Homo sapiens: one gene and its partners. The protein of the gene in region 4 purifies or fractionates together with the protein of the main gene of each other region. This does not show direct contact. Each region holds a gene or a part of one and is shown on either strand. Other genes may lie near its edges. The genes, in order: TMOD2, CNRIP1, RIOX2 and RBM18.

Evidence for each region.
Region 1: the proteins of RBM18 (region 4) and TMOD2 purify together in Homo sapiens (affinity purification with mass spectrometry; 3 studies listed by BioGRID and IntAct, with this or other methods). This does not show direct contact.
Region 2: the proteins of RBM18 (region 4) and CNRIP1 purify together in Homo sapiens (affinity purification with mass spectrometry; 3 studies listed by BioGRID and IntAct, with this or other methods). This does not show direct contact.
Region 3: the proteins of RBM18 (region 4) and RIOX2 purify together in Homo sapiens (affinity purification with mass spectrometry; 3 studies listed by BioGRID and IntAct, with this or other methods). This does not show direct contact.

What each region holds. Positions count from the first base shown.
Region 1 is NC_000015.10:51,746,885-51,754,603, forward strand, and holds the start of TMOD2 (tropomodulin-2), read left to right. Parts: upstream 1-4,712; 5' UTR 4,713-4,828; intron 4,829-7,719. UniProt on the Homo sapiens protein: Blocks the elongation and depolymerization of the actin filaments at the pointed end. The Tmod/TM complex contributes to the formation of the short actin protofilament, which in turn defines the geometry of the membrane skeleton.
Region 2 is NC_000002.12:68,309,943-68,316,968, forward strand, and holds part of CNRIP1 (CB1 cannabinoid receptor-interacting protein 1), read right to left. Parts: intron 1-7,026.
Region 3 is NC_000003.12:97,941,424-97,948,449, forward strand, and holds the end of RIOX2 (ribosomal oxygenase 2), read right to left. Parts: intron 6,027-7,026; coding exon 5,938-6,026; intron 4,465-5,937; coding exon 4,375-4,464; intron 3,920-4,374; coding exon 3,761-3,919; 3' UTR 1,892-3,760; coding exon of another isoform or gene 1,803-1,891; 3' UTR 1,021-1,802; coding exon of another isoform or gene 861-1,020; 3' UTR 395-860; downstream 1-394. Other genes in the region: CRYBG3 (very large A-kinase anchor protein), read left to right, coding at 861-1,020, 1,803-1,891. UniProt on the Homo sapiens protein: Oxygenase that can act as both a histone lysine demethylase and a ribosomal histidine hydroxylase. Is involved in the demethylation of trimethylated 'Lys-9' on histone H3 (H3K9me3), leading to an increase in ribosomal RNA expression.
Region 4 is NC_000009.12:122,261,831-122,269,007, reverse strand, and holds the start of RBM18 (probable RNA-binding protein 18), read left to right. Parts: upstream 1-4,167; 5' UTR 4,168-4,293; intron 4,294-7,177. Other genes in the region: MRRF (ribosome-recycling factor, mitochondrial), read right to left, coding at 3,228-3,262.

The DNA of each region.
Region 1 (7,719 bases), on a different chromosome or scaffold from region 4:
AAATAACACCTTAGTCCAGGCATGGTGGCTCATGCCCGTAATCCCAACACTTCGAGAAGCCAAGGCAGGCAGATCACTTGAGGTCAGGTGTTCGTGACCAGCCTAGCCAACATGGTGAAACCCTGTCTCTACTAAAAAAAAAAAAAAAAAAAAAAAAATACGAAAATTAGCCGGGCTTGGTGGCACACGCCTGTAGTCCCAGCTACTTGGGAGGCTTAGACATGAGAATTGCTTGAACCCGGGAGGCAGAGGTTGCAGTGAGCCGAGATCACGCCATTGCACTCCAGCCTGGGTAACAGAGTAAGACTCTGTCTCAAAACCAACAACAACAACAACAACAACAAAAACTGTAATGCCAGCACTTTGGGAGGCTGAGGCAGGCGGATCACTTGAGGTCAGGAGTTTGAGACTAGCCTGACCAACATGGAGAAACCCCATCTCTACTAAAAATACAAAATTAGCCAGGCGTGGTGGCGCATGCCTGTAATCCCAGCTACCTGGGAGGCTAAGGCAGGAGAATCGCTTGAACCCAGGGGGTGGAGGCTGTGGTGAGCCGAGATCACGCCATTGCACTCCAGCCTGGGCAACAAGAGCAAATCTCTGTCTCAAAATAATAATAATAATTTTAGAAAACAGACCTTAATATAATCAAATATTCTGTGTTCACATTTTCCCTAATTGTCTCATTAATGTGAATTTTTAACAGCTGCTTTCTCAAATTAAGATCACACATTACATTTTGTTATTTGTCTCTTGAATTTCTGTGTATCTATAAGCTTTCTCTCCTTTTATTTTTCTTGCAATTTATTTATTGAAGAATCAGTTGTTTGTCATGTAGAGCTTCCTATATTTTGGATTTTGCTGATTGCATCACTGTGGTATCATTTAACATGATCATGATTACATAGTAATTAGCTTTTAGATGTTTGCTGTCAATTATACTACACATACGATTTAATTCATAATTCATCAACATAGTCACTGCTCCTTTAGTCTTTATCATCCACCATATCCTTTGAAGCATCTTTGACACAAATTATCTCAGTTAGTCTTTCTAATAACCCCATGTGGTAAGTATTATTATCCTCAGTTTAAGAGATGAAGAAGGCCGGGCCCGGTGGCTCACGCCTGTGATCCCAGCACTTTGGGAGGCCGAGGCAGGTGGATCACAAGGTCAGGAGATCGACACCATCCTGGTCAACATGGTGAAACCCCGTCTCTACTAAAATACAAAGAATTAGGCGGGTGTAGTGGCAGCACCTGTAGTCCCAGCTACTCAGGAGGCTGAGGCAGGGGAATCGCTTGAACCCAGAGGTTGCAGTGAGCCAAGATCGCACCACTGCACTCCAGCCTGGTGACAGAACAAGACTCCGTCTCAAAAAAAAAAAAAAAAAAAAAAAAAAAGATGAAGAAAATGAGGCTTAAGGGAGGTTACAGAAACTTGGCCATAGTCATTGTGCCAGTAAATATCTGGGTTCAAACTCTCTGATGTTAAAACCCATGTTGTTATCTGTTATATGATAATATCCCATCACATTGCCTGTGGTTTGTGGTGGTTGTTTTTAATCAACTCTAGGAAGCAGTCTTTCAGTCCATCCAAAGAATGTACTTTCACATTTCATCTTTAACACTTAGGATGCTTTCAGCTTCAAGTAACAGAAAACTCCATCTCAAATTGACTCAACAATAAGGTTATTTATTATCTCATATAACAAGAAATCCAGAAGAAGGGCAGCACTGGGGCTGGTTGATGACTGACTCAACAACAATATGGCCGACCCAGATTCATCGTATCTCTTTACAATGGCCAGAACTGGGTCACATGTCCACTCCTAAACTCTTACAGGCCAGTTAAGAGGATTCTATTCCTCTTGTCTATGATAGATTTGAGAGTGTACCTCTCAGAGGCTAATAGGGTCACCTTTCCTAATGTGTAAACACCCATATAGGCTTCTATAAAGAAGAAGAGGGTGGACTGAATGTTTAATAGACAACCAACAGTGTCTACTACCTGTTCCTAATGAGGTGTGCTACATATTCCACTGTGAATAATTAAAATACTTCATTATAACTGCCACGTTGAACTTTTTTCCTTTCTGCCATTTGACAATTACAGTCAATATATCAGCTTCCTCATTTACAGGAAGAAATGGCTACACAAAATGATATGTAAGGTCCCTTCCAGCTCCAGGAGTTCTGTTTCAATTTTACATTTTCATCTTCTAAAAAGCAAGTAGAAAAGTTAAACTTACAAGATATGGTCCAGAAATGATCATGGGTTTCAACTGATAAGTCATAGGCATATTGACATCCTTTCTTCCTTAAGATAAGACATAGGCAATAGATTTAAAGAGCTAAACAGACTGGAACTGGTAATATCTTTCCATTAAGTTTTAACATTAGGTTAAATGTTCTACTTCCCTCACTCATCCTTTAACACCTTCCAGCTTCCAACACTCATCATACAGACAGAGACTGATCAGAAGTTTCTTTTCACAACTCACTTTATTTTGGTGTCAGCATCCTCCTGGAGCATGGCTCTGGGGCTGTAGGATAGCTCTTGTATCTCTGCTTCGACTGCCGAACATGACTTTAACTTAAATCATTCCCCTGTCTGCTTCCTTTCATGGCTAGTTTCTGAAGGAATACTCTATTCGTTTTATCACATGCAGCCATTTTCCTCGTGCAGAACCACGGGAAACCAAAGAGAAATACTGTACACTACTGAGCACCTTTGCTACTCTTTCTTCCAATATGAATGAAATTGCTTTATTATTTTCAGCATATGCCTACTATCAGCTTTCTCTGGGAAAACTGCTGGCTCGATCCGTAAGCAGCCCTGTTCTTATTTAACAGAAGGCTATGACTGTAACAAATGTACAACATAAAAAAGTCAAAGGCATCCTGTCGGTTACACAGGACATTCGGAATAACAAATGTACAGGAAAACTTGGGAACATGACTTAAAGTAATTTGGTCACACCCCCATTTCATTTAACTCTTTCTGGCTCAGATTTGTCATTCTGACAGGAGGCCCAAGATATAGTCCATTACCACAATTGATCATAGAAACAACACTGGTCTCTCAGTCAGCAGCCACTGCGTGCCAGTGTTCATCATGCTAGTTCCCAGAGTTTTAGAGGATTAACTTTACTTTCTGGTTCAACCCATCTGCTGGGGAAGGTATGGCCCTATTTTGCAATGTGCAAAAGGGAGACAGTGCTGGGGGTGCCCACAGTGGAAGGAGAGAAGACAGGCTTACTGAACACCCCTATGACCTTGAATAAGTCACATCACCTCTCTGTGCCTCTTATTAACTATCATTGGGGAAAAATACCTTCACTCTGCCTGTCTCACAAGGGTTCTTGTAAAAATCAAATGAGAACACAAATAGGAAAGTATTTTCATAAATGCAAACCAGTGTTATCATTTTCAGATGTGGAATTTCCTCTGCAGCACGTTTTTTTGGCCACACGATTACTGCACACCTCGTGCCAGACAGACTATAAAGCTGTTTCACCTCTTTTCACATTTTGCCTAAAATTTCATATAGAGATTACACCAGCCATGCTGCATCCATCCCTTTGGTTCATTTTCCTCCACTACATCTGTGAATGCAAATCCCACCATCATGTGAAACACTGCATAGCAGCAACTTGCAAAACTCAACGAACCTTAGACTGCCAAGATAAGTCCCATAAGCAAAGGTTATGCTCAAAATATGCTGCAAAAGTTCAAGAAGGAGAGAGATATCACATCTAATTAGAAAAGGCCTCTGGAAGTTAAATCTAGATGCCATGTATTTTCATAATGTTGGTCTTTGTCCTATGTCACCCCACTCTGCTGTCATGCTTCAGAAACTTGACTTTATTTTCTCTATCTTTGGAGCTCTCAAGAACCTGGCAGACAGAACATCTCAGGGTATATTCAGGGATGAAGTGAACGGGCTCAACGACTAACAAACCCAGTGGATTTTAACATTTACCCAGCCCAACGAGGTCCAACTATCTTTAGGTTAGCACGACATATAGGACTTTCCCGGCCCAAGAACTCCCTCGGAAACCCCAAGGAAGGAACTTTCACTGAGTATGCACTAAGTGCCAGATCCTAAGTGCTATGGGTCGCTTAATCCTCACAACACTTTTTCAAGCTTGAAGCCTGTTTTACAGATGAGGACGCGAAGGCTCAGACAGGCTAAGTTGTCCGGTCTCACCTCAGTGAAGCCGCCACTGCGCTTGGGCTCTCCAGCCCCTCACGCCATCACCCTAGAGCCTTGCTAACTTCCACCTCGCTTACCTCCTTCCCTCCCTAGGCTGCCAACCCAACTACTCTCTCCTCCCACGCCCACGCCCAGCCAGGAAAACCTGGGGCGGGCGGGGTCTGTACCTGAGACCGCTCTCAACGCGGCTTCCGTGTCAGGATGCTCGCTCACAGGAATGCTCATCACAGGCTTGAAAGCCTTTGCCATCCACGCTCTCCGGAGCCCCGAGCGTCTCCAAAGAGCCTGCCCAGGCTTCTCCCCGACCCAGGTGCTTCCTCCCCTGCAGAGCTGTGGCGGGGTTCAGACCCCGATTCCGGGAGAGGACACCTGTCGGGGAAGGGCGGGGCTGGGGGACTGCGGGGCCGCGGCGAGGCTCAGCCGGGAACTACGCTTCCCAGCCTGCTCCGCTGCAGCCGCGCGCCCCGGCGCCGCGCCCGGCCGGGAGCCGCCTGTTGATCGCCGCGCTCGCCCCGGCCACGGCGCCGCCCCTGTTCTCCCGGCCCCGCTCCACCGGGGCTGACGGACTGACGGCCAGCACAGCCGGCTCCGGGATGAGCGCACGGACGGGTGAGCGCCCCGGGGGGCGGGTGGGGCCTGTTCTGGACAGCCGGTGTCTGCAGCCCCCGGGCCCGCAGCGCGGTGGCCGCCGTGCCCTCCCTGCCCGCGGGAGGATGCTCCGCGACATGGGCGGTCGGCCGGGCGGGCGTGCAGAGCCGGGCCGCCTCTCGCCTCTCGCCTCCCGGCCCGGTCGGCTGCGCCGGGAGACCAGGCGCTGCGCCCGGGCGGGAGGCGCCCGCCGGGGTGTGAGTCCCGCGCCCCGCACTGCGGTGCCGCAGCCTCTGCAGCCCGCTGGGCCGCAGCGGGGAGGGCGCGGTCTCCTGTCCTCCCGGGCTGCGGGGCTGTGTTCTTCCACTCCGGGCTTTGTTCCCCCACTTTTCCCCTTCCTGTGCATGTTTGGTGAGCTCCTGGAGCGGTATGCATCTCCCTGCCTCGTTCAGCAGGCGATGGGGAGGGGTGGACTGGCCGGCGTCTTTCCTGAGATCGCTGGAGCTGTCACTCGCAGGGCGTTTCAGCCTCCCAGTAAGCGGCCTCGTGCGGATCCTCGAGAACCTTATTATTATTGTTATTACTTTTCTGGTTAAAGTAATTGTAGTATGTGCTCCCTTGAGGCTTCCTAAATGTTCCCTGTTGACCTGCGGAAATGAAGGTGGATTTTTAAAACAGTAATAAAAGGCTTCTAATGGGAATTTTTAGAGTATTCAGAGGTAGGAAGGTGATGCCGTCACAATGCAAATTAGCAGTGAAGGAGGCCGTGCTTACTGCAGCTTCGTCTGTGCCCATTACATATCTGAATCACGAGGCATTTAGGACGGGAATGAAAAGAAGATCGGGGGAGGTGTTTTAAAAACCAGGTTCTCCTCTTAGCTTGACCATTCAGGAGCTGAGGGACCTGGGCAAGTCCCTCCACCTCTCTGGGCCTCTGCATGTAAAGGGGCGTTTGGGCTAAATGATTTGTAAACCTCTGTTCTTCCAAGATTCTCCCCTCTCAGGGAACTGAAAAGATGAGAGTGTTTCTGTTTAACAGCACTACAAAAAGCCTAATTGTGACAACAAGCGCCTCTACCCTAGTGAGGAGGAAAGATTTTTCAGAGCTTCAGCAATCTGATTTTTTTTTAAAGATAAAACTGATTTTCTCGATCGACTCTCTTCAGTCTAACCCAATAAATACGCATTGCAATCATTTTAATTTTTGTAAGGTACTGTACATTGGTGGGCAACAAAATGATGGGGTTTGTTTTTGTCTTTAATTTGCTGAAGGTGAAGTGATGGGATCAGCAGATAAAGGATTAGTGGCTCCCTAGGGCTGGGCACGAGTGGTCAAATGTGGTCAGCATGGAGGTCGGGGAGGAAGCCCCAGCAAGAAGTAACCAGAATGTGTATACACAGAAAAGAGAAGTTGCGTACTGATGGATCATTGTTTGAAAAAGAAATATGCAATAGAAGGAATGAGAGAATCAGGAACTCGGCGCTCTGCAAACCTAACATAACAGTTGAATAAGGCAAGGACTTACCAACTGGTCCAAAACCTTTGAGTGAAAGGTGGTTGGGGAATAGGATTTTCATATTATTTCAAAGTATCTCACCACAGTTTACTCTGGGAAAATTTGTCCTTACAATGGAGAAATTAGGAGGTCACCACTGGAACCAAATGACCAAGTTTAGCAGCATCTACTGCGAGTCTCCCGTTGTGAAGCAATAAGGAGGCATAATTTCACCTCTGTAGTGTTCCTGCAAAAAGACTTGGCGATGGGGCAGAGCAAATGGGAGCAACTATTGTAGGTTAAAATACTCAAGTGATACAATAGTGAATTGGGATGTGTGAACTTTGAATCCTAGATGCAAAAAAAAAAGCTATAAAAGACAATTTGGAGATAGTTGGGGATGTTTGAATATGGATTGCATGTTAGATGATATTATGGAATTGGTGTTAATTTTCTTAGGTGCAATAATAGTTCATTCTTGTGGTTACCTAGACCAGACAATCCTTATTCTTTGGAGATGTGGATATTGGAGGTGAAGTGTCATGACATCTGCAACTTTCAGCTGTGTCAGAAAAAAAAAAAAAAGGATAGGGGTAGCAGAACAAGTTCAGGAACGTAGCAAATGTGGCAGAATGATGACGGTTGGTGAATCAAGAAGAAAACAAATGTTTATTGTACTATTCTTTTAACTTTTCTATAGATTTGAACTTTAAGAAATGGGGAAGTCAATAAAATAAATAAGCGAATAAAGAGAAAGTGTTGTAGAAGACGGGGGTGGTTCGTGACAAACAGCTGCAGTGAATCTGTGGGGAATTTCTTGGCTTCACCTTCCCAAAATTGAAATCACCTATTGGAGGTGTGAGTGGGGGGGACGGGGGGTTGGTGTTCCCATTTTTGGTTTATCTTGGCTACTCTCAATCATTTATGCTTAAGTACCCCATCCTCTAGCTTCAACTTCAAAGTATTAGTAATTCTCCATACCTAAGAAATTCTAGCCCTACCCAAGAACCATCCCGAAAGTGCTGTCCCTTTCCTCTCTGTGTCCGAGATCTGTGTCAGTGTGTAAGGAAGTTTGAGAACATAGGCAGTGGTTCATTTTATTTTGGGTTAGGGTAGTGTTGGGGGAAAAATGATTTAGCTTTGTGATAGGATAGAAGTTTTGGGGTTTCCTCTCATTCCCTTGTGTGTAAATCATATACAACCAAATGTTTTCCTTATAGACTTTAAGTGGTTCAAAGAGGTTCATAGAAGGCATGTGCAGAAGAGACTTCCTGTTACCAGACCACGAAAACAGAATCAACTCTTACAACACTTAATCTCTTACACGGAATCCCTTGCTGCAAAGATATTTTTGCTTTACCTGGATTATATGTGTTTATGTATACATGAAAATACTAATTTAAAGTATACATATTT
Region 2 (7,026 bases), on a different chromosome or scaffold from region 4:
ATATTTACGTATGTATGTATGTATGTATGTATGTATGCATGCATGTATTTTGAGTACATTCCCTAACCTCAGAAGTAGGTATCAGAGTAAAGAGTTTTGGATTGGCCAGGCACGGTGGCTCACTCCTGTAATCCCAGCACTTTGGGAGGCCGAGGCAGGTGGATCACTTGAGGTCAGGAGTTCGAGACCAGCGTGGCCAACATGGTGAAACCCTGTCTCTAATAAAAATACAAAAATTAGCCAGGTGTGGTGGCACGCGCCTGTAGCCCCAGCTACTCTGGCGGCTGAGGCAGGAGAATCGCTTGAACCTGGGAGGTGGAGGCTGCAGTGAGCTGAGATCGCACCACTGCATTCCAGCCTGGGCAACAAAAGTGAAACTCCATCTCAAATAAAGCAAAACAGTTTTGGATTGATAGAGCAGCTGGAGAAATAGGGGAACCTCAGGGTGGGTATATCCAAAAATCTCAGTATAAGCTCTCCAGTTCCTTGGCTGACTGCTAAGCTCCATGGGCACAAAAGGAGACCAGGCTAGAAAAGCAGCAACTGGAAGTTATAAAAACTGAGCAAAGAGATCAGCTGCTGCATACTGCTGGAAGATAGAATTTGAAGTTTGAGTACAGGAATGTTTACTGCCAGCTAGAATACAAAAAACCAGTAATACCCAGAAGAATAAAGCAGAAACTAGAGTTGGTAATAAACTATCCACAATGTTAAGTTTGTGGCCAAAAATTACGAGACATGTAATGAAACATGAAAGTGTGACCCATATTAAAAAAAAAAAAAGTCAGGCTGTAATAATTTACTCTAACTAGAGCCAGGTGTTGGATTTATTAACTACTTCAAACCAGCAATTACAAATGTGCTCAGATAAATTAAGGAAAACATGGTCTCAATTAGCCAACATAAGGAATCTTGAGAAACTGAAACTATAAAAAAGACAAATGAAAATTCTAGAGCTAAAAAATGTTATAGAATTTAGAAGATAAGCACAAGACTAGAAATAGAAGAATCAGTGAACTTAAGGATACATCAGTAGAAATGATCTAATCTGAAGATCCATTAAAAAAAGAAAGAAAATTGAACATGTCCTCAAAGACTTATGGGATAATACCAAGCTTTTCAACATATGTTTAGTTGGGGTCCTACAAAGAAAGGAGAGAATGAAGTATTAAAAAAGTATTTAACAAAACAATGGTTAATAATACTCCAATTTTGGTGAAAACATTAACCTCTAGATTCAAGAAATTCAGTGATCCCCAAGGGGGGAAAAACCAGTTAAGATGCATCATAACCAAACTACTGACAAGCAGAAAGAACTCTATGAAGGGATCATTTTACTGTATATGTATTATACTTAAGTTAAAATATTTCAAAGCAAACAAGGGAAGGGAATAAATATAGGATTAGAAAACAATGAAGTAGAAAAACAGAGTGAAGCATGTGAAAAAAAAAGCTAGGATTTTGAAAAGGCCAATAAAACTGAAATCTCTAGCTAGACTAATCAGAGGGTATAAAAATAAAAATTTTGAATAACAAGAGTGAAAGAGTAGGTCGGGCGCGGCAGCTCATACCTGTAATCTGAGCCCTTTGAGAGGACAAGGTGGGCGGATCTTGTGAGGCCAGGAGTTCGAGACCAGCCTGGCCAACATGGCAAAAGCCCATCTCTACTAAAAATACAAAAAATTAGCTGGGTATGGTGGTGCGCACCTGTAATCCCAGCTACTTGGGAGGCCGAGGCAGGAGAATTGCCTGAATCTGGGAGGCAGAAGTTTCAGTAAACCGAGATTGCACCACTGCACTCCAGCCTGAGAGACAGAGTGAGACTCCATCTCCGGGGAAAAAAAAAAAAAAAAAAAAAAAGAAAAGGATCAAAGAGTAAAAGAGTAGACATTATTAGAGATCCTAAGACACTGAAGAATGGCGGAGATTATAAACAACTTTATGGGAATAAAGTTGAAAATTTAATTGAAATAAATGACTTCTAAGATAAATTACAAAAACTCAGGAAATAAAACCTGAATAGCCCGATATCTATTAACGAAATTGAATTTGTAATAAAAAATCTTCAAATAAAGTATAATCTATGCCTTCATTGGTGAATTCTGACATTAAGAAAAATATCATTTCTATATAAACTCTTCCAGAAAATAGAAGAATGAACACTTTCCGAATCATTTTATGTAGCCAGCATTACTCTGATACCCAAAACTAGACAAAGGCATTATAAGAAAAGCAAACCATAGACAAATATCCCCCCCGGAACATAGATGTCAAAAATCCTTAACAAAATATTAATGAATCAAATCCAGTTTTACATACCGAGAATAAACCATGACCAGTGGTATTTAACCTGGGAATTCAAGGTTATTTTAACTTTGAAAAAGCAAGGTAATCTACCATAAACAGAATAAAACACCTTATGATCATTTCAAAAGATACAGAAAAACTATTTGAAAACATGTTATAATACGTTCATGATTAAAAAAACATTCAGTAAACCAGGAATAGAAGAGAACTCCTTTAACCTGATAAAAAGATTTACAATAAAGAACCTTACAGCTACTATACTTTGTATTGAAAAACAGAATGCTTTCTCTCTCAGACTGAGGGACAAGAATGTCCACTCTCACCATTTCTATTTAGCAGCATACTGCGAAGGTCCTAGCCATTGCAATTAGGCCATAAATAAAATGAATACAGATTGGAAAGAAAAGAGAAACTATTTACAGATGACATGATAGCATATTTAGAAAATCCTAGGGATCCTCCAAAAACAGCTATTAGGATTAGTGAGATTAGCTAAGTCTCAGGATTCAATATCAATATACAAAAAAAATCGATTTTATTTCCATATACCAGCAAAGATTCCATTTACATTATTCAAAAATATGAAATAATAAATTTAACAAAATATGTATAAAGTCTGTAGAGGAAATACTGTAATATATTGTGGAGAAAATTAAAGATGACCTAAGAGATATTTCATGTTCATGGTATAGAAAACTCTATATTAAGATGTCAAATATCTTTAAGTTGACCTATAGGTTTAATGGAAACTCTATATCCCAATTTTTGGAGGAATTGACAAGCTCATTCTAAAATCTATATAAAACACAAAGGACCTAGATTAAGCAAAAGAACTTAGAATAAACAAAGCTAGAAGATTTATGCTACCTGTTTTAAGGACTACAATATAGATCAAACAAGATTGTTTTGGGTCTTCTATGTCTTTGGAATTTCCAAATTAAAAAGACATACATTGAGTATGTAAAGCAACTAGAATTCTCATACACTGCTGGTGGATATACAAAATGGTACAACAGTGTGGATATTTCTTACACAGATAAACACATACTTACCATGTGATTTAGCAATTGTCCTCTTAGGTATTTACTCAAGAGAAATGAAAATATGTTCACACTGAGACTTATACTCAAATGTTCACAGCAGCTTTATTCATAATAGCAAAAGCTGAAAACAACCCAGATGTCCATTTATTGGTAAAGGGAGAAATTATGGTATATCCACACAACATAATATGCTACCCAGAAATAAAATGAACCAACTACTGATATGTGCAACATAGGTGAATCTCAACATTATACTAAGTGAAAGAAGTCAAACAGCACTGTTCCATTTACATGAAATTCTTACATAGTTAAAACTAACATATTGAGATGGCAAGCTCAGGATAGGTTAGGTTGGGAGGAATTAACTGCAAATAATTTTCAGGGTAATAGAAGTGTTCTGTTATCTTTATTGGGGTGGTGATTATATAGTAGCATCTACTTGTCAAAACCTATGTAACTGTAAAGTTGGTGCATTTTATGTTAATCATATCTCAAAGCTGATTTCAAAAACTTCAATGATTTCCTATAGTCATTAGGATAAATCCAGTGGCAAAAAGGTTCTATATCATCCAACCCCTACTTACCTCTCTGGCTTTATCTTATACTGTCTTTGCCTCACTCTATGCCCACCATGTTGGGCTTCTCATCCATTAGAATACATACGCTGTCTCCAGCTCTTGACTTTTACAACTACTCTTTCCTCAAATGCTCTTTCTTTCCTCAACTCTTATTCATCCTTCATTTTTTCCTCAAGAAAACCATCCCGCAAATCTTGGACTAGGATAAGACCCTTGGTATATACTCTAACAGCACTACTTTTTTGCTATACTTTTCATATTAGCAATTATTTACCTTATCATTGATAATCATGTATAAAGTATGTTTCCACCCTCAAGATCAGAAATTCTATGAAACCCGGGTTATCTATTTTGTTCACCACTCTTCCCCCTGAGTCCCTGATATACAGGAAATCCTCAAATATTTGCTGATAAAGCAAGCAAATTTTAAAAATCTAAAAATTCTAAATAAAAGAGCATATAGAATTTAGCAATATATTAATAATACATGTTTAAGTAGGGCTTATTGTAAAAAATAAGGTTTAGTATTTGGAAGTGTATTACTTTATGTAATTCATCAAATATATCAAATAAGATAAATTATCTCCAACTACTGCTACTAGCTGTAGTTGACTGCTAGCAGCAGTCAACATTATTCTAGAAACATTAGACAATGCAATATGACCAGGAAAAAAAAAGACAGTTATATTCAGATTCTGACCATCTATATGAAAAACCCAAGATGATTTGCTGAAAAATTTTAGTAAGCAAGTTCAGTAAGGTGGTCAGTTACAAAGTATATGAATACATATTATAAAAACAGTGTATCTAAAACAATGCAGTATTGGTGTAACAATAGATAGATCAATGGAATAGATTAGGGAGTATAGGAGGAGATAAAATTTTTGCAATATAAGAAATTTCTATGAAACTGACCTTTGGAGAAGCATAGATTATTTAAATAATTGTATTAGGACACTGTGGGCAAATACTTTCCAATATAAAAGTAAGAACTGAAATAATATCTAAATCTGTAATTCATCTAAAATTTAACAAATGAGACCATAAGAGTTCAGATGAAAATACACAAATGCCACTGTGTATATGTCTATATATAATTAATTAATCTGGGAGTCAAGGAAGACTTTCTAAGCTGGATCTTAACTGCAAAATAATAAAGGAAAAGGCTAACATGTTTGACTACAAAATTTATATTTTATATTGTAAACAAAATAAAAATTAAAATATTAAATGAACACTCAAGATGTGATAAAAATGACGATTTTAAATTTATAAAGATTTTTCAAAAAATCAATAAGATACACTTAAGCAGAAAAATGGGTGAAAACTATGAACATATAATCCATGAAGCAAATACAAATAGTAAATGAATATGTCAGGATTTCAAATTAACAGTAAGTAAAAATTGAAGTATTTCAGTCAGATTAAAAATATGTAAACATGACAAACTATACCTAGTGCAGAGAGAAATGGATACTTAAATACAGATGATAGGCGTGTAAATTGCCTAGCTTTTCTGGAGGTCAGTGAGGCAGTCTTATAAAATGCCTTAACGTGCACATTTCTTCTAGAAATCAAGAAAACATTAGACAATTGTACAGTACTCAGTGATTTGTAATGTGGTTTTGTTTATAATACCGAAAACCAGAAATAATCAGCAATAAGTGACTGAGGATAATTTGATACATTCATAAAATACAATACCCATACAGACTTTAAAATGACATTCCATATATATATATGGGCATATATTTGACATTGAAAGATGTATACAAGTAGAAAAAAGTATATATATGGAATGATACTCAAATATATATATTTAATGACAGGGTCTTACTCTTGTCACCGAGGCTGGAGTGCAGTGGTGTGATCATAGCTCACTGCAGCCTCAACCTCCTGGATCCAAGTGATCCTCCTGCCTCAGCCTCCCAAGTTGCTGGCACTACAGGTGTGGTATCACCACACCCGGTTAACTAAAAAAAATTTTTTTAGAGACAGGGTCCCACTATGTTGCCCAGGCTCACACATATATATTCAAAGACATAGAAACAACTTTCTAAGAACATTTATTGACATGTTAACAACACTTCTCTCTTGCAGGAATTATACATTTCCCTCATTTTTGTATTTTTCTGTGTTGAAGGTTCTTTGACAGAACAAGAGCACTTTCTAAAAATAGTTCAAACATTGGATGCAAAGGGATGAGCTGCTAGATTATTTCCTTATGTGACTATTGTGGTTTTAAAAAGTATAATGGGGACTGGGAACACTTTAAGTTTCCAAAGGTTAGATAGGCATTTCTCAAAGTGCATTCCCACACCATCCTCTTCAGGATCTGGTATGCTTGCTAAGAGTTTCTCTGTCCCCACCCTAGCTCTACTGAGCTAAGATCACTGGAGAGGGAACCTAGGACTGGAATTTTAAACAAACTCCCAAAGAGATTCTCACGCATACCGATATTTGAGAACCCTTGTGATACTTCCTATAAAGCTAGAGGGCAGACAGTTGAAGGTTGTTCTTGCAGAGGGAAAAGGCTGCCCAGTTTGCAAGCAGCAGTTTAGGTGAAGCTTCCTTTTCCTGTGCTTTAGCAAGCTTGCTTCATCACCTATTTATTATGTTTGCACATATAGTTAAATCTATGTCTTGACTCTATCCTTTCTACCAATTTGTTTTTTCTTACTTGGGGCCATATTACCAGGGTATATCATTTTATTATATATGATATCTGATAGGATTACCAGATATTATATATAATAGGTATATATAATATAGGTATATATATATTATATAGGTGTATATATAATAGGTATATATTATATAAAATAGGTGTATTATAGGATATTATATAAGAGGTGTATTTTTCCCATGACACTTTTTTTGGCTCCTCCATTTAGCTTTAAGTAGCAAAGTGTCATTCAAATCAGCTTTCTCTTAACCAGAATATTGTGGCCTACTTGGAATCAGAAACTTTTCACAGCCAATTATCTAAACCAGTTCTGAAGTAGACTATAACTGGGAAAATGGCAATGTAGGTTCTGTCTCTTCCAGAACCATCTGCTTCTGCTTATGGTGTCTTTTCAGCATCTACAGGGTCAGTC
Region 3 (7,026 bases), on a different chromosome or scaffold from region 4:
TGATTATAAAAATACTGCCATATATTACTAAAACATTTATATAAAATTAACTTAATTTTTTGAACAAGAAAATCCAGTTTCAATTTTTAAGTAAACACAAAGGTTATCACATATTATGGATATACCTAAGTGATTTTTTACAACCAATGGTATAAGTCACCAGATCTAAGTTGGACAATGTGCTTTTGTAAGATGTTCCTTACTTGATGGCCCAGATAAAATCAGCCATCTCTGTGATTCTAAATATGTTGAAACCTTTCATTTTCAAAGTATACAAAGAAGCAGTAGAAGAAGAAAGCTGTTATTGGAAGAAGCTTAGAAAATAAAATTTAGGGTTCTTTTCTATGACCCTTCCGTTATGTTTAATGCATTGGGAATAGAACACTACTTTAAAAACATTCAAACTGTGTTTTATTGTATCACCAATGGATTATCTACTTTTTCTCATGCTTCAAAAATGAAAAACTTTTAAAAGTAATTATTGTCTGGATATCTTTAGCCCATCATGCAATGTTTTCATAAGAAAACCAAGCTCAACATAATACGTTTTAAGCAAACAGGGATTTAACATTTAATTCCAATTCACCAAATCTTTATTGAACATCTGTTGTCAGATGTAGACATCCTATTAAAAACAAGTACCTCTATTTCAGTTGGTTTATTTCTGTACCATCTCCTACCCACAGCCGTAAAGAAGACATTAAAAAAGGCTTACTGAAATTATACTATATAGTATTTTTTTAGATAAGACACACACACACTTCATGTCTATGACTTGTTTACCTAAGATAAAAGGGACCTAATTCAACTTACTTTAGCAAACATACTACTGCCAATTAATCATTTCTTAACCCTTTTAGGCCAGTGATACATGTCTTGATGTGATTGGTGGCCGGGACACACCTGGAGCTAAAGTAGCTCTATGGACTGAACATGGGCAATTCAGGCAGAAGTGGAGACTGAATAAAAATGGAACTATCAGCTCTTATCTCAGTGATCAACTTGTCCTTGATGTTAAAGGTGGGCCTTTGATGATACCCAATGTTGTGTCCCTGGATATTAGTTTCAGTTCCAAATCTCCTCATTTTGGGTAAAGGACATCCTTATGTATAAGAGAAATGTTAAGTCATTTAAAATTATGCTTGAAGAAAATTAAGATAGGCAGTTTTACAAACAAAACAATTAGCAGAAAAAGCCAAACAACAAAGCTTAGGGTTTTTGTTCATTAGTACAGTTGTAAAACTTTCATTTGCTACGTGAACTCAGAACAGTTCTAAATTTCAAGCACCATAAACCATGAAATGAATGTCATCTGTTTCTTAGAAACATCTCTAGCTTTTTGCCAGGAATTGCCATGGTCCTTAAAAACCCTCAGGTAGAATTTATGGTAGGTATCAATTAACCTTGTTTTTGAATTCAGCAAGGTCAGGGCCAATATTATTCATGGCTGTTGCTTTAATTGGGTTAGTCACAGTTTTGTTGGTGTAGAAACAAAAACACAGTACCTGACATTCAGCCAGAGTTCTCTCAAGAGCACTTTGTTCTAAAGAATCACATTAAGGCACGCCACTTATACAATCATGTATTATACCTTTTAGTATTTCAATTTGAGTCATAATAAGGTCCAATTTGAGGTGAATAATGGCTAAGCCTGTTCAAACTCAGCTTCCCATTTCAGACTTCTTTGTAAATGACACATTCATCCACCGAAATGGTGAGCTGAACAGAAGCTTGTGAAAATTGTGAAATTGCTAAGCACCTGCCTGAACAAATAATCTTTTCTTTTGGAATTTCTATTTTAGGAGGAAATTATTGTGACAAGACTCATGTAATTGTAAATCAGCCCCTGGAGGGAGAAGAAACACAGAAATGGGACATTGAAATATTGTGAGAGAATCAACATCCCTAGAAAGATCCCTAGAAAGAGCAAAGAAGGAAACACATCTGTCATTGTCTTGTGGACGTGGAAAGGAAGCTACTGTCCTCACACTCCTGGATCACTGAGCAGAATGAACATTTTCTCCAGCCTCTGAGACTATCGCTCTTAACCATGGAAAAGCTCAAAATATTCTTGCCATTACTCAGTGTTCCTATAAAGAAAATATTATGATATCTTGGAAAGGTTCTATTCCTGATCTCCAGCTGTGGTGAGCAAGTTTCCTGAAGTGTTTATTTTCTCTCATATCCACCAAACGTGAATCCTGTTCCTGATGGCCCGTTATTGGACACTGGTGATGCTATTATCCTGTATTATTTATTAATATCCTACCTAGATGCTTGTATGAGTACAAAGCATAAAGAAACAGATTTCTATAGGTCAAGTCATACTTTTGCAAACAGATGAGTAATTTTTTAGCAACACCTGAAAATATACTAAACTTTCCTAGATAAACTTTAAGGTTTCTATACTGAGGCTTTTATAATGAACGCACCTCGTTAAGTATTTATACTTGTAACTAACCCCAGGCAGGGACCTCAGCTTTGTTAGGAATAAGGCACAAGAAGTATTTTCTGTAGCTATTGTTTCCTCAGTCCTTCAAACTAAAAAAGTACAAATAAATAACCTATGGCCAAACTTGCACTGTTACGTGTTAACCAAGACATCCCTTTAGGTGACAAGACTCTATAACAGTGGTTACCTGTCTCCATGTTGACACTTCATCCTAGATTTAAGGAGAGGCATCAATTTTTTTTTTTTTTTGCCTCAAGAGAAATTTCAAATATCCAAATTAAAACACAGTAGCATTTGAACCTTGACCTTACCATCTCTTTAAGTAAACGTGGAGTTGATTTCTCTACTAAATAACAGAAACCTCAGTTTTTCACTCCCATTGTAAGTAACTTTTATTTAAGTAAGTAAAATCAGGTAGGAAATCACCTTTGACTTAGCTTCCAGTAGTCATTACCACCTTTTACTGCACAATTCACAAGCATGTTTTCCTGGTGAATTGGACTGAAAATTACATTTTGACAACTTTTTTTCCTTTTATCCCCAACTTTTGCCAGAAAGCAGAAAAATGCTCTATTTTTATAAAGAAAGATTAAATTCTCCAATGATATTTTAAAAAATATCAACCTACATGCACTTTAGAATGTAAAATAACAATGACTATTTTAAACTCGAAGACCCACTATTTTGAGTATTTTTTATAGACTTTAAATACTGGGTTTTTTTCCTCCTTCAATCTCAGGCTTTTCTCCATCTTTTAAGCAGCCTCTGTAACTCCCTTTTGTCCATAGGTGTTGCGTGCCTCTCATCTGTGGGGAAGTATTATTTAATAAAATTTATGTTACAGGATAACTTTATTTTAATGGGCATGGGCTTGTCTATACACAAAGGTATGTATATTTTCATTATAAAAAACCAGTTTAAAATTTTTTCTTATTTTAATTGTTTGAAATTTTTCTAGAGCCAAAGAAGCTCTTTAAAGAAGTTGTTTCTTCCAAAGAACAAAGCCAGGTTAATGACATTCAATTCTAAATGATACATTGGAATTGTGCCTTTTCTACCACACTGGATTAAATAAACTTGTCAAAATATGGTTTTGTCATTTTCTGAGACACTTGGTAATTTGCTGTTCTTTCTTTCATGTGCCCGTTAGTACATTTGGCCAACTGACCACCTGTAACAGGGAGGTCTCATGTTTGTTAGTAGATACGCAGGTAAGGAAACTTGAATTCATCCTCTCCTCGGCTCAGGTCTTTGCTTTTCTTTTAATATATGCATATAAAATAGTAGGCATTTGATTCTGCAAAGGCACTAGACTACTTGAATTAAACATTCTGTCCAGAGGGATAATACCAGGCTTTCCTTTTCCTCATCTGTAGTAAGTTTCAGGTCCTTGACAGAAATAGCTGGACTATTCCAAATTTGCTTCAGTGCATCCAAATGTGACAAAGGGAAGCGAAGTCCATGAAACTGAAAGGATAAATTTATTTGTCAAAATATATGTATACTACTTATGTCATTGAAGTAGCATTTTCCTGTAAATTTATTCTCCATACATCATTATTTTTGATACCCCTCATGAGTATTTTAGACACACTACAATTAGATAACATAAAAGATGCCAACTTCTATATAAAAGGCATCCTAATTTATGTAGTAAGTGATATTAGTAATTTGAAATGTTTTACATTATACCATTCCTATAAGGCTACAGGTCCCAGCTAGTATGTCTTAAAACTGGTGTGCATGTATCACAGAAATGTCTGACTTAATCATCCCCATGCAGGAGCTCTGTGAGTAGTGCAAAATGGTTAAGTCCACAGTGCAGCCATAAAAAGCATATTACCTGTAAATCAAAAATAATCAATTCTTCCCAACCACCACCCAAGTCACAGGATAGGCATTTGTTTTCAGTTGAAACAAACCTCTGTTTCCTCCTCATTTCCCATCATGTGTGTCTCTCTACTATTCTTTAAGGAATGATAGATGTACACCATCTTTTCTTGAGCTTCATCCTTTGGGGAAAAAATAAATGCATTAGGCCATCAACAACACAACACTGAAGGTGTCAGTACTAGGAAGGTTTTCCAATAGGTCAACACCAAAAAAAATTTCAAAAGCCTTGGTGCTCAAGTGAAATTTATTGAATACTGTAAAGAATCCTTTTGGCAAAAAGTGACGGGTGTGTGCATCCACACAATGTCTATACTTCATTAGTCACCACAGGTTACTATTTGTATGTGGCAATTAATGGGCATTCTAAGTTGTTAAAACAGCTGGAGTGCTACCTGGAAGAGCATCTTCAGGATTTAATGAAAAAGCAGTGATTTATGTATCAACTTATCAATGAAATCCTCAGTTTTTTTAATCATACCTGCACTATCTTTTTTGAATAAAAAAATCTGACATTTCTAGGTATAAACTGACAATTTATAATCATGAAGTCATTAACTCCTGAGAAATACCAGCTGTGTGATCGATAAAAAACTCCATTTCAATTACACTACCCTCCCAAATGGTCCCTATCTCCCTTCACTCCCCATGTTACACAGTGCAGTTTATTGTCTCTTCCAGAGCCTTTAGTCATTCTTTGTCACCTCTTAGATAAGGGCAAAAAAATCTTAGCCTAGCGTACAATGTCTCAAACTGACTGGTTATCAGAATCACTATTTTTTTTTTAGACAGGGATGTAGGAATGTGTACTTTTGAGGATGTATATATATATATATATATATCTATTCATGTATATTCATATATATATTCCAACTCTGGCCCTGACGGCTGGAACAATCTGGTTATCGAGACATGTTGAGTGCCCCTCTCATCCCCCTTGATCATTCATGGGATAGCTCCTTAGAGAGCTGATTAGGAGGAATGAGGTGGAGCCATATGGTATGAGATCGTTCCAAGGTCTTTAGGACTGTACAGGGAGCTCTATCAAAACATAAATCCAAAGGCTCCAAGACCAGATGAAACCCAGGAATTTATAATTTTAAAAAGCTTTCCAATTGACTCCATGATCAGTTAGCCAGTTTGGGGAATCACTGGGCTAGGAAGCAAAATTACAGAATATATACTTTGTTCTCCATAATCTACAGGATAGAGTTTAAGGAGATGCAACAATATCCACAAAACCACATAGAAATATAGATCTGCACAGTGTGGAGGACTGGGGCTGAGAAACTCAGGAATGAGGTCTGTGGCTGTCCAAGCAAGAACAGTAAGGCCCGAAGTAGGATGAGAAGCAAAGACCAGACATTAATCACCACATAAAGGGGATGAAGGAAGGTTCTGTGAGGATGAGGGCAAGAAAATATGGAATTGGAACTGTGAGATTTGGTCATCATCTGACCTGAAGAAATGGCATTAAACTGAATGCAGGTGGATTCCTAAAGAAGGGCAGAGACCAGTGGTTAATCTAATAACCTGAGGCCTCTGATGAAAAACACCCTGAGAAGACAGGAAATCTCCTCCTCTTGGATACTCACAGATTGATCTTGATCCGGCAGTACTGTGAGGACAATGTGGTCTTTAAACTGCAGTCTCACTACACTGTCCAGCCTCGGTAACTTTCCACCTAGAAAACCCCAAAGAGAGAAAGCCGACCTTCAAAAAAGGAAACAGGCAGATTCAAACTTGCTTATACATACACATAGGAAACACATTTACTAACAATTTACAGGTGAATCCAAACATGGCATACACTCCAACTGAAGAATTTGCTTACCCCAACATTGTACTGATATTATAGTTCACATCATTATGCAGCTCATTCTTACAGTGAAGACAGACATAGATAAATAATGTAAGTTTATAAGTACAATAAATAGACAAAAATAATACCATCGAAGTACAGTGGCTATCATAGCACATAAGGCTGTGGTGCTTTCTGCACAGAACACTCACTCCTCCAGGTTCTGTCCTCTACAAGCTTCTCGCTCAACATATGGACTCTGGAAGTACTACCTGAGTTCAAAATTGCACTACTCCACCAATTATTAGGTGTGTGACCCTGGTCAATTATTCAGTCTATGTAAGTCAAGAATAGTATCCTATAAAAGCCATCTAATAAAGTCCACAGAAAATTTTTTTTTTCCAAATTGGATTTAACTTAGTGGAACAATACCCAATAAAAACAGACTAGCCTTACAGGGTCATCTGCGTGGGGAAGGAGTCGTGAGGGATCATCACTTTATTGAGTATAATGCCTAAGATAAGGAAAACACTGAAGTAGTCTGGGCCATAAGCTGGTGCATAAGCAAACTGTTCTGCTAAAGATTAAACCATGTGCTTGTAAAACATTTGCTATTTTGAATAGATACAATCAAAAACAAATTCTAAGCTTCCTCCAAAGACTATGATAAAAATGTATATAGAATCAGTGTTGGAAGGGACCTTATAGATTATCTATCTCAGTGGTTCTCTCTTGGTCATAATTAAGAGTTTTATTAAAGTTAGTAAAAAATACTCTTTTCACTCAACCCTGAGAAAGAACAGCAGCCAAAAAGCTGGCCTGGCACTCACAGCTAGGTCTTTGTGTTCTCCTGTTGAACACAGGCAATTCCACAGAATGCTAA
Region 4 (7,177 bases):
TTTTTTAGTAGAGACGGGGTTTCACCTTGTTAGCCAGGTTGGTCTCGATCTCCTGACCTCGTGATCCACCCACCTCGGCCTCCCAAAGTGCTAGGATTACAGGCGTGAGCCACCGCACCCGGCCTAATGATGGATATTATTTTTAAAGCAAATGAGTAGCACAAAGGCAAATCATTTCTCGCGATGGAATTTTTAACAGTAAGGGATACTAGAAGTTAGTGATCAGTGTATGAAGTCTATAAAACCAGATTTGATGAAAAAAGGGAATATTTTTCTTCTTTACTAGTATCAATAGCTACTATTAATTGAGGTCAAGTTTGGACTGTTTGCTTTAACCATACTATTTCATTTAATTCTCTCAATAATGCCACAAAGAACGTATAATAATCCCCATTTTACAGATGCTGAAACTGAGGTTCAGAGAGATTAAGTCACTGTCCAAGGACATGGAGCTAATAGCCAAGCTCTATTTTAGCAGAACTGTTCACAGAGGTTTGGCTCAGAGTGAAGTTTCTATATCTAGGTTTTTCCCTAATAAAACCAATGCCTAACTCATACTTATAACCAAATATGGCTGTAGAATAATGAGTAGATTTTATTTTAGTCTACAGGGTCTCAATCTGGCTGCTCCATTTAAGACAGGTTTCCTGGTATTCCTGTTGCAGGTCATAATACCAACTCACAAAGCAACAGGAAATCAAAATGGGTTAGAAATAAACAACCTTTGACAGAAAACGCAGCACCCAAAAGCAGACCCAGTACACGTGAACCGGAAGACAACTCTATAAATAAACCACATCGCTGAAATGCTTAAGGCGTAGATTTTAATTGCACAGAAGTCAAGAAATTTCAAAGTGGAAGTTCAATAAAAGCAGTCCTTTAGGTCCTTTACCTTAAGGGTATACAAATTAACATTCAGTTCAGCACAGATAAAGAATTAAAGTTGAAGAAAAATTTGTTGAGATCCCAAGTATGAGCCAACAAAATTAACCTATACATAGAAGCAATGTGGGGAAGTGTCTGAGCTTTGGACGCAGTCTGGAACTGGAATCTCAATTCCCCCACTTACTAGCTGTGTGACCTTGGGGAGGTCATTTAGCCTCTCTGAGCTACAGCTTCCACATCATCATCATAGTGATATTAATGAGACTTTAAAAGATAACAATAATGACAATACCTAACATTTATATAACAATGACTACGTGACAGAAACTATTCTAAGTGGTTTATGCACATGAACTCATTTCAGCCTCATGATAACCCTGAAGTAAGTACTATGATTATTCCCACTTTACAGATAAGAAAACAGAAGCAAAAATCTGCCCAAGATTTGAATTCAGTCAATCTAGCTCTAGAGTCTATGTTATTAACTGCTATACAATGCATATAGAACACTCAGCATGGCTGGGAACAGTGATGGGTGCCTATAGTCCCAGTTACTTGGGATGCTAAGGAAGGAGGATCACTTCAGGCCAGGAGTCCAAGGCCAGCCTTGGCAATATAGTGAGACCTAGTCACTTAACAAAACACATACACACAGTACAATGCCTGGCATCCAGTAGGTACACAATAAATTGTAGCTATTATAATAGCATCCCAACTATTAAATTTTTTTTTTTTTTTTTTTGAGACAGAGTCTCACTCTGTTGCCCAGGCTGGAGAGCAGTGGCACGTTCTCAGCTCACTGCAACCTATGCCTTCCAGGTTCAGGGGATTCTCCTGCCTCAGCCTCCTGAGTAGGTGGGACTACAGGCACCCACCACCACACCCAGTTAACTTTTATATATTTTAAGTAGAGATGGGGTTTCACCATGTTGGCCAGGCTGGTCTCAAACTCCTTACCTCAGGTGATCTGCCCGCCTCGGCCTCCCAAAGTGCTGGGATTACCGGCGTGAGCCACTGCGCCGGCCTGAATTTTTTTTCTTTTTTTTTTTTTTTGAGACGGAGTCTCACTCTGTCGCCCAGGCTGGAGTGCAGTGGCGCAATCTTGGCTCACTGCAACCTCCGCCTCCAGGGTTCAAGCCATTCTCCTAACTCAACCTCCCAAATAGCTGGGATTACAGGCGTGCGCCACCACACCCAGCTAATTTTTGTATTTTTAGTAGACGGGGTTTCACCGTGTTAGCCAGGATGGTCTCGACCCCCTGACCTCGTGATCCGCCCGCCTGGGCCTCCCAATGTGCTGAGATTACAGACTGAAATATTTTTTTAAACTACTTGAAGCACACATTCTTTTTCCAAAGTTGAGGGTCTCAAACGATTTCCCTGTTCTTCACAGAAGGTTCATTTTAATTTTGGCTAGATGACCAACCCAAAATCCTGGCTTATCTACTGTCCCAGCAACTCTTTTCAATGCAGCTGTATACTAGCTTATAACATAAGCACTTCTATGAGTGTGCATATACGCAGGCTCTTGCATATAAAATACTTTCACATGTACCATCTTAACTGGTTCTCATAACTAAAGAGTGATAATCACCACCCGTATTTTGCAAAATAAGAAAAGTGATCTTTCACTTCTCCAGGGCTCCCCCTGCTCCAGGGTCTTCAAACATGCCATTGAATCTCCTTGATGATCTTCCCTCACCTCTTTAACTGTTTGTCTCCGTTTTTATTTCAGATTTCAGCTTAACCATCACTTCCTCAGAGGACGGCTTCCTTGGCCATCTCCTACAGCCCAACTAGGTCAAGTGTCCTGTAGTCTGCTTTCATAGCACCCTTTACTTCATCATAGCACTTAATTCTTAACAATACAAGCTAACATTTGTGTAATTATTTGATTGTCTAATTCCCTCCATATGACTCTAAGTACTACAAGGACTAATCTATGATTTTCTTGTTCACTGCTGTATCCCCAGTACCTGGTACATTGCCAGAACACAGAAGACACTGTGAATGTGATGAATACATCAGTGAAAGTCCAGAAAGATAAATTCCTTATCCAGGGTAAACCAGAATCGGATGGGAATCTACCCTTACTATTATGGTAGGTTCTGGGCTTCCCAGCGTTGCCTCCACTGTCTCTGGTTTGCCAGATTTTTGCTTAGAGATAGTAGATGATGTTCTTCTCTAAATGCAGTACCAGGTAAAGAAAGGTACTTGTAGTATCTGACTATACACAGAATCATTATGCACCTGGCACGGCCAAAGAAGGAATGAGACACTTTAACAGGTAGAGAAAGGGCTTTTGCCTAAGAGTTAAGAGATCTGGATTCCAGTATGCCTACCTTATCACTCCCTGCCATCTGCCATTTAGATTCATAATCACACGTATTCAAAAAGCATTTGCGGCAGCTCTACCACTGACTTGTGACTTGTACCAAGTGATTTCTCCTACGTAGATTTTGTTTCAACCATAAAATGAAGGGGTCAGATCAGGTTTTCATTCTTTCCAACTATAAAGCTTTCCAAAATGGGGGGAAATGCAACAGTGTGGTTTAAAACAAAATAAAGGCACTAAACTTAGAGAAAACTCCGAGTCTTGGTTCCAGCACTTCCTAGGCACGTGACCTTAAATCGGTCAAACTCTCAGGACTTCCGTCTCATCTGTAAAACGTAAATGACAATACTATTTGTCAGGGTTAAGTAAATGGAGAAGGGCTACTGAAATGACAACTGTTTTGCCACTGGGTGGCACAGAGTGGTGGTTAAAAGTCCAGGCTTAGGAGTCGGATAGCCCTAGGTCTGAATTTAAGCGCCCTCACTTTCTGACCGCGTGACCCTGGTAAAATTACCTATGTGAGCTTCCGTTTCTTCATTATGGGAGATAATAATATCTACTCCTATGGGATTGTTCTGAAACTCAAACGTTCCCGTCAAGTGTGCGGCTACTCTTTAGTAAGTTCCTCCAGCATCCCCTAAATTCCTAGCTGGTAAAAGGAGCCCCGCCCCCACCCCATGAGACTCGCTCCAATGCCACAGGTCCCGCCCTCAGCCTTAAAGGTCAAGCTGGACTCGAACGGGTCGGGGACGGTAGTCTGGTCCCCTGAGGTCCCCCAGAGGTCCCTGAGTAAGGGTCTCTGGCACCCAGACCACACGCGCCCCTCGAGGCCCTGTCAAGGACACTCACCAGCTATCGCCCAGGTTACTAAGGAAAGACTCGTGCGACGGCGGCGACCGCAGCTGCGCGGACGTCGTGACGTCACGAAGCCAGGAGGCGGCGCAGGCTTAACGCGTCACGGGCGGCCTGGCAGCTGGCGGCATTGAGGCGGACGCGTCTAGAGGTCCGTCTGACCGCGGCGTCGGGACCTGGTTTCCGGGCATGAGCTGAGAGCACCACGCCGAGGCCACGAGGTGAGTTCGGCCGCGACATGTCCCTGCACCTCAGCGATGGGCCCGCTAAGAGGTCTTACAGGAGGCCGCCCTCGCAGGACTGCATCTCAGGCCCCGCCCCGGATTGTCCTGTCGCTGGCCCGGAAATAACAATCCGAGTAATGACCCTTCGCCTGTAGGAATTCGCAGCCAGAAATCGGGAAGCCAGGGTTCCAGGCATGACCCCACCGCTTGCTGTTAGGATCAGGTGTCTCTTCTTCTCTGGATTGCACTTTCCCCAGATGACTATTTCTGGCTTCCAGAGTTATTGCAGCTCAGCTGGAAAGACAAATGTAACCGCGTTTTGTGAACTCTGGTAGTCTAAAGGATTGTTGCTATTGCAAACGCAAAGCATTTTGATAGTCCCGTGCCGTCTTGATCTTTTATTACCCTTTACCTTTCCTCAAAAAGCCATATTCTGAGCTGTCACCAAAATTGTCTTATTTAAGACTCACAACGACCTCGTGAGACGACAAATTGTACCCATTCTAGGAAGGAAAAAGAAACTAAGTCTTCGAGTGGAGAAGCGGCTTGCTTCATTTAGTAAATATTAAGCACCAACCGTGAGACAGGCAGTGTACTTAAGTGCTAGAAATAGAACCGTGATCAAGATTGGCAAGGTCCTGTGCTGTGGGAGCTTACGTTCTAGTGAAGGAAATAGAAGAGGAAACATTAAGTAATACATTGAATTAGCATTTAGTAGGAGGAAAAAGATGGAAAAGTGGCTATGATATAGAATAACAAGGAACTCTGTTTAGGAAAGCTTTTCTATCGAGAGGATGCTTAAAGAAAGGTCATGTGACTTGCTAAAGGTGCAGTTACTAGGTGCAAAAGTCAGGATTTGAACCCAGACCCGCATAGCCTGCACTCTTACCAGTAAAACATGGTACCTTTTCGTGGTAATAAATATTAATAGCTATTGGTATTATTCCTGATTTTAGACATGAGAAAATCAGAATGTCCTATCATTCAAGTCCCAAATGTCATCTCCTTTAGAGAGGCCTTCCCTCCACTCAATCTATAGTCGTCGAGTCCCTGTCACATCACCCTGCTTAATTGTGTTTGTGGCATGTATCACTAATTATATCTTCTTTATTTATTTTGCTTTTGTTTTGTCCTGCTCCCCTTCCAAATACAAGCATCCAGAGGATAGGGACCTTGCTTGTTCACTGCTCTGACTCCAGTAACTGGATAAGTCCTAGATAATAGAAGCAGTGAATTTATTTTTTGAATGAATGATTTGTTTAAAAAGTAGGGGGAAAGGAAAGCAGAGGGAAGACAAAAATGTGTCTCCCCTGGGATTAAATTTATGTCTGTTTCACCTTTCTCCCAGGAGGTAAGAACAAGAGCTGTGGCTTTTTCATTTGTCTATTTCAGTACATAGCCCAGAGTTTAACAGTTCCTAGTTGCTTGACTTACATTGCTGAACAGATTAAAGATGTGAATGGGAAAGGAAGAAAAATACCCTCATGTGCAGGGTATTCAATAAACAATTACCTAGGGACTGCTGTGCTAGACTTTACAGGGTGTGCTGAGATGATTAAGAGGTAATGGCAGTTGTTGTGACTGCCTCCATGGTTCCTGTAGTGCTGACCTCTGAGGTACTTCTGGGTATAGGATATGTGTTCTCTAGCAGGGACTTCTGAACTCTGACACAGCCTGCTGTCCTCCCAGCCCCTAAAGCTTTATTTCACATCTGTCGTCTCATTTTTGGTCCTCGAAGCCTTAAGTTATAAACAGGGCAAAATTTATTAAAGATGGGTAAACTGAAGCTCAGAAAGAAATAACTTCCAGTGGAAATGCCACAGTTTGTGCTGGGCATGGTGGCTCACACCTGTAATCCCAGCACTTTGAGAGGCCGACGTGGATGGATCACTTGGGGTCAGGAGTTGGAGACCAGCCTGGCCAACATAGTGAAACCCTGCCTCTACAAGAAAATACAAAAATTAGACAGGCTTAGTGGCATGCACCTGTAATCCCAGCTACTCGGGAGGCTGAGGCATGAGAATTGCTTGAACCCGGGAAGTGGAAGTTGTAGTGAGCCGAGATCGTGCCACCGCCCATGAGTCTGGGCAACAGAGCGAGAGTCTGTCTCAAAAACAAAAAAAAAGAGAAAGAAAGAAATGCCACAATTTGAAACAATGTCTTCTGACACCAAGGTTTCTGCTCTTTCTACTGCTGTCTCCATCATAATCATAATCCTCTTTTCTCCTTGGCTGTGAGATGAGACATTTCAGGAACTAAGACTAGTAATAATTTAAGCTAACATTAATTGAATGCTTCCTAGGTGCCATGCACGGTTCTAAATGCTCTAGGTGTATTAACTCAGTGAATCTGCACTGTAATTTCATGAGGCATTATCCCCATTTTACAGATGAGGGAACTGAGGCCAACAGCTGTTAAGTAACTTGCACAGGGCTACATAGCTAGCAAATGGTGGAACTTGAATAACTAAGGAGGAAATTAGTCTCTTCTTCCTGGTCTGTCCCAAAAGAGTAAGCATGATAATAGCTAGTATTTATTGATTACTTACTGTTGTTAGATACAGTATTTAGTGATTTTTTTACTGTCTTTAATCTTCACAACAACTCTATAAAATAAGCACTATTATCTCTCTAGATAATGAGGAAACTGAGGCCTAGAAAGTTCAGGTAGTTCATCAAGTCACACAACCTGCTTTCAAACCCAGTTCTGTCTACGCACAGATTTCTTATATTGCCTCTTCTCTTTGCTATATTGCCTCTTCTCTTTGCTATATTGCCTCTTCCATGAGGAAAAGGGATGGAGTGCTGCTCTTCCCTACCCATCCCTTTTAATGCCATTAAGACTCTTCCTGGTGGTTTCCAAGGCTTATTTTGGGTGACAG